Linked DNA regions of Homo sapiens: region 2 is linked to region 1. The links come from fine-mapping of genetic effects on gene expression. Tissue or cell type: whole blood. Region 1 holds a variant in brackets; the other region holds the start of a gene. All regions are shown on one strand. Distances are between the middles of the regions.

Region 1 (4,950 bases):
GGATTAAGGAAAGGGAGTAATTGATATTATCTCAAAGAGTTTGAGCCTGCTTACTGTGGATCTGCAGTGCCATTAACTGCATAAAGAAATTTTGAGAAGGGGAATCATTTGAGGTCTGCCTCCGCACTCAGTGGTGGTAGAAATTCTCCTCCCAACAACACAATAGCTACCACCTATAGATTGCCAAGCCCTTCCGCAAATGCATGAAGGGAGGTATTAAGTGACTTGCTCCCTCAAGGTCTTTATCTACTTTTCTGTGGGTTCACCTTTGGTTCCCAGGGGAATTTTGCATTTTTAGTGAAGTAGCCATGCAGAGACAAGGTCTGTAGACTGGTGTGTGGGGACACAAAAGGCAGTGAGCAGATAAGAGCTGACAGTTGCTATGCCAAAAACAGGAGAAAGGGGAGACATATTTCTCTTTATGCAGCGGAGATCTTCTTTGATCAATTTACATAAATTGATTTTTTTAAAGTTTGAAACCTTTCTCCCCATTATTCTTATTTTCCTCTCAAATCAATGAATGCATCTCAGTTTGATTTTCTATAATCAGTGGCTTGCTATGAGCATTTCTATCCTACAGTTTAAAGACCTGTAAATAAACACTTTCGTGTACTCAGGGGAACAGATGCTTAAAGGTGTTCTTTGATAATGTACATGATCAACACTTAATGCATCTTTTTGTAGCTTCCCATTTTCATGAAAACAAGTTATCCTAAAGAGAATTATTTCTAAAGTCAAGGACTGGCTCCTTCTGGAAACCCCCATCTAGCCCCCAGCATAGGTTGATGGCTGGGCTGGGCTTTGTCTCTCAGGCTGCTTGGCAACAATGGGCTCTCTCCTCACTGGGCACTGACCAGCCGCTGGGAACAATGAACTCATGCACCCTCAGCCAGCACCAGGAGTCACTTAGTTCTCCTTTTGACCTTGCCTTTCAAAAGCTGATCCTTATTAACCATCAGGATGCGGTGGGGAGTTGCTGAGACAATCCTCAGCAGCAGCAGGGTGACCCCCGAGTTGTGTCTGCTCTGAGACAATATAACCCCTAAGCTCCAGGGCTCCGAGGGTAGTGATTTAACAAATCGTGTGTTTAAACAACTGATGGCACGACGCTGTTGGAGGGGTCTTTGAAGCACATTTCTAAATAATGGGGGAAATAATGAACACCTCTCACAAGGGTATTTAAATGACATACACATTAGGAGGTTGGGGGGAGGCTCTTCTCTTCTTGCATAATGGACACTTTTTCCTGTTCTTTCATCCTGTTTTCACTTCATGCTTCAAAAATAGTTGTTGAGTGAGCAGACCTCTGGGCACTTTGTAACCAGAAAGAGAAAGACCGCCAATGGCCTGTCACCAGCCTTTCTGAGAGGTCCCAGCCTCTCAGATGCCCTGATGCAGGCAGAGGAGTCCAGTGGAAAGCCCAGAGCATTCCTGCTCCTAAATCCCCTTCCTCACCTGCCATTGGAAACATATTTCCTTATTTAAGACATTGCTGTCAGTAGATGGGAGGTGGCATAGAAAGCTGCTTGTGGGCAGTGACATTTGGCACATTGCAGTTACCCAGATTATGTTCTAAGGAAAATATTAGCTGGGAGAGAATGGGGCACAGGATTAGCAAACTTTGATTTCGTGTTGTGGGGTACGTGGGAGTATGGAAGGGAACAGGCTTGTAGGACTAATTCCAGGTTCTTAATATAGCAAATCTCTGCCTACATCTTTACCTAGTTTCTCACGACTCCCCATATCCGGCTTGTTCCCTAGCATCATGCTGATATTCTTGACACACGCTTACACTGGTCCCTCGCCTAGACCTCTCCTACTTTGCCTGTGTATCTTCTACTCTGCCCTAGTTTCTTCGTGAGGCAGGGTCACAGTACCACTTTTGCTGGTCCTAAGCAATTTGGCCTTTGTGGGCTCTTCTTCCAAAAAAAAAAAAAATGTAAAATTCTATTTGATAACAGCACTGGCATGAAGATGCGTATAATGTAGGCTGAATTCATTGTTACTAGCCGTTATTATTATAATCATCTATTCTTGTTTTAAAAGAAATTAAAATTAAAGCATTTTTGTGGGCCACAGGCTCTGTGGCCTGACGGATGTCATGGCTAACGGATGTCAGCTCTGCACCTGAGAGCCCTTTCTGCCTTCCCCGCAGGTTACACACCCATTGT[C/T]TGTTGTTCTCATTAACTTCTCTTTAATATTGCTCTTGCCACACTGTACTGTAGTTTCCTGTTTGCGCAGGTTACGCACCCATTGTCTGTTGTTCTCATTAACTTCTCTTTAATATTGCACTTGCCACACTGTACTGTAGTTTCCTGTTTGTGTATTTGCCTCTCCTATTAAACCTGGTTCTTCTTGAGAAGAGAGAACTGTGCTGTGTTCATTGTGGAATACTGCACAATTCACCCAGGGCCTAACTCGTAAGTAGCCACTCCACACATCCACATTGTACTGAGCGGTTGACAAAGACAGAGCTGGTGGGGCACTGTCCTGAGGGTTCGGCCACAGCAAGGAAGGCACTGGTCAGCAGGAATGGTGCTGACAGGGCAAGTGGGTGGGAGGATTTCGCAGATTTGCCTTGCCTGTTCTACACATTAGCTGAGGGCCGAGACTGCCCACAGGCAGTCATAAACTGGCTGTGGTGGTCAAAGCCACCTGCAGATCTGACAGGAGGAAAGGCTAAGCTCCTCTCTGTCCAACGCGGCTTTAGTGCCCTAAGGAGATCACCTTTCCAAGCACAGCAACCCTGCCTGTGAGCAGGGCCCTGTGTGCCCACATAAAATGGAGAAACAAAAACAACACAATCGATAAACGAGCAATTTCATAAGTATGATTTGGGGTCAGTTTGGCTGGAGGGGAGAATTTAATTGCAAAGCTCCTACGTCTCAACTGCCTGAGGGTAGAAATTGGAGAGAGAAGAATGGGAGACTCGAATGTTGATTATTAATAAGTCTTAAGGGTTGAGGGTGGAGGAAGACCTGTGAAGACTGAGGTTAAAATGATGCAGATGAAGGCACTTTAGGTGAATGCTTTGAATTTATACATTGCTGCTTCAAATGGCCCCAAACTTAAATAGAAAGATGATCTGTGTTGCATTTCAGAATTTGTTCTTATAAAAATGAAAAGCCCAATAGGGTATTGTGCTAACAACCTACTAGAATACCATTTGGCATTAAAAGAAAAAGAAGTTCAAGATGTAGTCCCTACTGTCAAATAGCTTGGAATCCAAACTGGGCAAGGCAGGTCATGTGTGAATCTCTTGTTGAAAGTGACAGAGCAGAGTGAAAACCACATAGACCTCTGGACTGAGTAAGCAAAGAGCAGGTGGGCAAGAGAAGTGAGGGGATCCAGGCTCCCATGCATGAGTGGGCTGGGCTGCCGGGACAGGTTTATCTAGCTGGCCTCACTGGAGGGTTCCAGTGGGACTAATGGATGGTTGCTAAATCTGCATCTCCAGATCTAGTCCTGTTTCTGAGCCCAAGAACCAAAATTCAATCAGCCTTTGGGATATGTTTTCCGCAAAAGACCTTTGTCAACTAAACAGACTTGACCGTTGCCCTCTAGCTCCTGCTGGTGTCCCTATTTCTGTTAATGGCAGCTTCATTACTTAATCAGAATCAGTTTCAGCATTCTTCCTGACTCCATCCTTTCCCGTATGCTCTATTTTAATTGGTACTCTGGCCCCAAAGATTCTTTTTTCACAGCTTCGCTTAAGTCAGATCTCATCTTTCCTACTCACAGGCCACCCCCTTAATATCATTTCGTGTCACCTTCTTCTGGACCGTTGAAATATCCTCCTAATGGTTTCTTCTTAGACTTATTTTAATGTATATATTGGCATTAGAATAATTTTACCCACACTGTCCTGGCTCAACATCTGCAACAGCTGTTCATGGCCTCCTAAAAAAGAGTCTTCATTCAGGCATTCTAGAAAACTGATTGAGAAGAAAAGGCTTTGGTGTCAAACAGACCTAGTTTGAGCCCCAGTTCTATTACTTAGCAGTGTGACATTTGCTGAATTAACCACTCTAATCCTGATAGTTAAAATTTAGGTAATTATTGTGTCTACATCATCATGTTGCTGAAAAGATAATAGATGCAAAGTGCGTAGCACAGTGCCTGGGACAAATAAGTGCTGGATAAAGCAGTTATTATTTTTTAGCTATTATGATGCTTTGCTTCTTATCAATCTGACTACATCTATATTTAAAATAACCCTGATGTTAATTACCTCACACATACCTATGTTCTTACCAAGTGAGACTCTTCACTTGCCTCCTGCAGGGGGGGCTCTGAAATTCATTCTGCTGCCACAGGACTGGCATCCAGGATAGCCGAGTGAGGACCTGGCACCACCTGCTCCCTGAGCACAGCCTGCCAGTAACCCACAGCATTTCCCAAGCCACAAATTCAGACTTCTTCTTCAGTCCCTGGTTAGTGATGAGCCTCTCTTCAGTGCTAGGACCCTTCCCTGAGTCCCAGTAAGATGGGCCGCCCTTGAAACCCTGCTCATCCTGGCAATCTGCTGTATCTTCCTTGCTGGCATGTGGATGTCTCTGTTTCCAACAGGAAGGGCCATCCACCCTTGAAACACTGCTATGTGGAAAATTCTGAGTATGAGGCAGCATAGAAGAGTGGTTAAGGTCATGGTTGTTGGAATCAGCTGAATAGGGTCCCATTTCTGACTCCAGTGTGACCTGGAACAATTTATTTAACCTTTTACTTCCTAATCTTTAAAGCAAGGACAATCATACCACCTTATCCTGTATTCTTCTAAATGCAGGGCCTGCTAAACACACCTATGAGCTTACTTGGGCATGTGATCCCAGAAGAAGGAACCCAAGCCAGGGGAGGAGTGAATCAGTGTAGGAGGGCAGGCAATGCAAGGAGGAGTTATGGATTTGGATACTGCACAAGAGACTGGTGCTCAATTCCATTAGAATTTCTAAG
Region 2 (4,950 bases), 290 kb before region 1:
AAGCCTCCAGCCCAGGCCAGCCAAGATACTCATCTTGGCCTGCCGCTCATAAGCCTTGTCCACTGTGCGCGTGAATGGAAGGAAATGAATGTGCCCCCAAATTTCTGTGGGTTCTTCCAAACTGATGGGCCCCCAAGTGACTGCCTCAAGCTATGACTGGCAGTCCCAGTCCCCTCAAACTGATGCTGCCTTCATGTCCCTTGTGCACTTTCTACTGGTGTGCCACTGTCACTCTAAGATTCCTACAGGGGACCTGTTCAGATTTCCATTGCCCACTTCATGGGGCTCTCATTTCTAGACCCTTACTGACCTAGAGCCCCAAATCTTTTATCCAACTTCCTCCCCACCATTATTTCTATCCCTCCTGAGCAGAGCTGAGTTTGAGTAGGTAGCTCCCACTAGGGCAAGGGTCATTCCAAACAGGTGGACTTTTTTCGGGGATCTAAAATGGTAGTTTCTGGTGACTCTCTGGGCATCTAGACCATGATTGGCATTATAGAGACTACCTGTGGGATGGATAAAAAGGGCTAGAATTTTCTAGGATCCCTACCTCACTTGTGGGGTGGGGCAAGAAAGAGCACATGGAAGGAAACATTCTCAAATGGTTCATAAGGAGCCTCTGGGACCCTAAGCAAACTCCCATTTCAACCCCCAGCACTCCTGTGGTGCTCAAACTAAGGGGCTGGACCCCTGCTGGGCGATACACCGCAAAGGGAGCCCCGGGAGATGAAACACTTAGACCCATTCAGTGCCTAGGAATCTCTCCCTGAGCCTTATGGAACCCGCGCAAATGATGTTTTCCCATTCCCCTGATCTCCAGTCCCCGATCGGAAGGGAGAGCCGGCGGCCACCAGGGACCCCGGCACTGGAGTGAACGCCCCCAAATCGATCGCTGGCCAGTGTGGCTTTGGGCTGTCTCGCTGGTGCCACCGAGGCCCTCTTTGGGCTCCAGCTCTCAGGACAGCCTTGCCGCCCCGAGCTCCCCAAAGCCGCAGAGCGCCGGCAGGTGCGCGGTGGAGGCGCGCCGCGGAGCGCTGCTGCCGCCCTCAGCCCGCATTCGGGAAGCCGGCGGGCTGCCGGCCGGGAAGCCCTCGGCGGGAGGCAGCGGCTCCAGTGAGCCTGCGATCGCGCGCACGCCGCGCTCCAGCCCGCGAAAGTGGCCGAGCCCACGCGGGGACTCGCCCGCCGCGGCCAAGCCGGGTCTTCTGGGGCCGGGACCCCAAAGAGGCGGGCGCGGGAGAAGCCGCCACGGGTGTGCGCGCCTGTGGGGAGAGGGCGGAGGGCGCTGCCGACTCCGAGCGCCCGGCCCAGCCGCCGCTTACCCAGCTCGGCGACGTCGGTCTGTCCTTCCGTCCCCGCTCGGTCTACCTCGGCCGCCGCCGGCTGCTGAGGGCGGCGCGAGGCCCCTCTCCCTGCCCGCAGCTCGGAATCAGGGAGACGACCAAATCCACATGGAGTCCAAATTCATTAAAATCCACGTCAAGCCACCAGACACTTATCTGTATTCCTGAAGTCGCTCCTCGGTCTCCGCTCCGCGCGCCCCTCAGTCCTCCGTCGCCCCGCAGCAGCCCGGCTGGGCGCTGTCGCCGGCTCTCAGGGGGCACCCGGAGGCGCCGAGGGGGCGTGTGGGGGCGGCCGGCGGTGTCTCTCCTGAGGAAGAAGCAGAGCCCCGGCTGTCTTCAGATTTTTCCAGCGCGACTTTCCGGGCTCCTCTGACATCAGCAATCCCGGCGCTTCCTTCCCTTCTTGCTCTCCGGTTCGTTCACAGTCCCATTTCCTCCGGGAGCCTGGCTTTCCAGATCTATTTCGAGGTTTGCTCCGCTGGCTGCGGCGCTCGCACGCCCTACCGCTCCCAAGCTCTCGGGGTCTCTCTCCGGATCGCTCGCCCTCTCGGCTGAAAAATTCCCAGCAACTGCCCTCCGCCGCCCTCCCGCTCCAGTCTGGCGCGGATGCCGCTCCTCCCGGCAGCTCTGGCTCCCGCGGTGGCGGCGGCGGCGGCGGCGGCGGCGGCGGCGGAGGAGCCCTGAGCGCCGGCCTCCCTATTTCACCATGCAGCTCATTATCATAGAGGCCGCGCGCGTTAACCCCCTCCCCGCCGGCCGCGTCCGCCCGGGCTGGGGCCGCGCCCGCTGCTGGCACCGCCCGCCACCGCCAGCACCCTGCCCCCTCCCCCGCCCGCGCGGACTTCCTCCTCCGCAAGCTGTCAACAAAGGAGAAGCAGGTTTGGCATCCGGAGGCCGCTCGGCTGCCTGTCCTGCGCCCAGCTCAGCCCGGACCCATCGGCCACCTTAAGTAGCCAAGGGGGCAAGGAAAATGCTGCCAGGGCCCGGGAATTCGAGTCGGGCCTTGCGAGCCCAGCTGGCTTGGCCCCCGGGGGAATAGAAGGTCTAGCGTTGGGGTTAGGGGGGAGCTCAGAACACAGGAAGAGTGGGTGAGGGCAGTAGGGACAGGGAATCCCCCCCATTCGCATCACCTGTCACCGCACACATCCTGCACACCTCCCTCTTCATCTGTAATTTGAGTGAGGGGTGAGTGGGGAGGAACGGGGCTTGTCTGGTAGGGTTGAGACTAGAGTCTTGGAATTTGTGGGAGCAAATTTCCTCTTCTTGTAAATTAAAAAAAGAAAAAGGCCAACAAGCTGTCAAATAAGGCTTGAAGTTGTTGTTATTATTATTATTGCAATGAGAAGATGAACCTTGCTCTGAATTGAATCTCAAACTTCCAGCCCTGATAGGGATCCTGGGCATCTGGTAAGTCCCGACTTGCATGGGGGCATTGGGGACGGGAGAAGAGCTTTCTATATCCAATTCAGAGAATCTTTCTGGCAGGGTAATCAGAGGGGTGGCAATAAGATAACTTATTTTAATAACCTAAGGTGAGAGGTTTCGGGATTCTGGATGACAATGTCTCGGTGCCCTCAAGGCCACTGATTCCTCGCCACACAGTCTCAGTAACTCCGCAGCCTCTAGACACGGCTTTCCGGAAGCGGCCTGCAAGCTGGACCCCAGCGAGTTCGCAGGATCTGCGTAGTCCCTGCTCGCGATTAGAGCGCACACGAGTTTACTCCTGTCCAAGTATTCTGATAAGCTTCCTCTACTGCCCTCTCGTGGCCACAGTCCTCAGTGGTATAAATCTAAAAAACAACAAAAATCACTGCGAATACCTAAAAGCAATTGCACCAAATTCTTAGAGCAGTAGCGGCAGAAGAAACGAAGGGAGGGAAGGATGAAGAAAGGGAGCCGGAGAAAAGAGAGAGAGAGAGGAAGAAGAAAAGGAAATCTAGACTAACCAGTCATCTCGAACAATCGCACATTCAACACAGGACTGGGGGATCTAGGCTTTACTCCAACATCTGCAGAAATCAGCGAATTCTTCAAAAGTTCTTCATTGTAATTAGCTGAAATTTGTGTTCCTGTAACTTTCACTGGCTACTGCTAGTTTTGTCCTGTGGGACCACAAAGAATCTGTCTAAGCTGTGTTGCCTGATCCATACCTGTTCTTTCCTTCAAACTTCTTTAGCATTCATTGTTGGTAACACACCAATAAATTATCATATTTACCCTGTGTTATTATTTATTTATTTTTATAAGTAGATCTTGTCTCCCCATGCAGACAGACTAGTCGATCGTTTTATCTCTGGGTAGACTGAATCTAAACCACAATTTATTAAAAAAGATGATTTGAAGAAGATGCTAGAAGATTTTGGAACACTTCCTCCATTTGTTCATGGAGTTTGGCCAGCTACACCTAAGACCAGCCGTGGTAGGATTGGAGATATCTAATTGATAAAGCTCCAAGCTGAAAATTAGGGCCCTCTGGTTCTAAATCAAGTGGTGTCTGACTCTGGAAGAGGTCACCTCTCTTCCCTATGCCTCAATTTAATCACACCTTGGGAAGATTATGATACAATTGAAATAATTTTCTCATATGCCACCCTCCACTCCTGTGGTCCAGAAATAAATCTTAGAATGAAGAGCAAGGAAGCATAAAATGAAACAGACTCTTCCACTCACCCCATCTTTTATCCCCACACCTCCCCTCTCTTTCCTGAATAAAGGGAGAGAAAGAGGGAACACAGGCGGGAGGACACATTGTGGCTGACAGGGTGGCACGACGCCATCCAGATTCCACATTGCCACTGAACAGGGTCTAAGATCTGAGTCCTGTGAGACTATGGAAGAGCCTGTGGTCAGCATAGCAATGGAAAGAGCGCTAACTTGATCTACTGGGAGGTACAGTGGATGAAGTACCTCTAACTTCTCTAGGCCACAGTTTGTCCATCTGTAAGATGGGAATTTCTGTCTTCACTCTCCAGACAACTGGGGGAATTAAAATAGATATATGTAAGCGTGTTGGAAGAAGTAATAGTATCATCAAAATGGAAAGATTGTTGTTATATTTAGTCCTAATAGGCTAGAACAAATATGGATCTTATTAGCTAAACATCTAATTACCATAACATGCTCTGAGAATTTAAAAAAAAACCAAAACCTTGGGTTCATGGTTCGTATTTAGATTTGACATCCTCTGAGGCAACAGCGGTATACCTGAACCTCTAGTCTTTACATCTGCTCGTTAACCTTCTCCCTTTGATCTGGGTATTCATTCATTTATTACGCAAATATTTATGAAGAGCAAATTTACTAAATTTCTTCCTTTAATGGAACTATATACAGTCCATAATTACTGCTTTGGCACATATTTTTAAAGAAAGCATGGCAATAACCCTACAGATTCTATAACCTCAGATCTATCTCTTTCTGAGGTTTCTGGTTTTCTTGTATGTTTCTGCCCTTCACTATATTCTTCCTCATTCTGTCCATCTGATATCAGGCCCACAGCCCCTTGGGACTGACCAGTCCTCTGTCAGGGCCTTGTAGTTCGTCCTCATTTCCATCTGGAAGGATAGATGTAGTGCAACATATTTGTGAGCAGGCTGTCGATATTTAA

What was found. PIP is the estimated chance that this variant, and not a neighbour inherited with it, causes the effect.
Region 2: it holds the start of PLXNA2, and the variant in region 1 is fine-mapped to the expression of PLXNA2 in whole blood (TOPMed, PIP 0.93).

The regions. Positions count from the first base shown.
Region 1 is chr1:208,536,576-208,541,525 of GRCh38, forward strand. No RefSeq gene overlaps it. Among named protein-coding and RNA genes, the nearest start is that of LINC01735, 75 kb to the right of the region's middle. The variant C/T (reference allele first, on the strand shown) is at 2,172.
Region 2 is chr1:208,242,321-208,247,270 of GRCh38, forward strand. It overlaps PLXNA2 (plexin A2), which reads right to left and starts at 2,064. Exons shown (of 32, transcript NM_025179.4): 1 at 1,323-2,064. RefSeq lists enhancers at 602-1,103, 1,104-1,603 and a silencer at 2,122-2,181.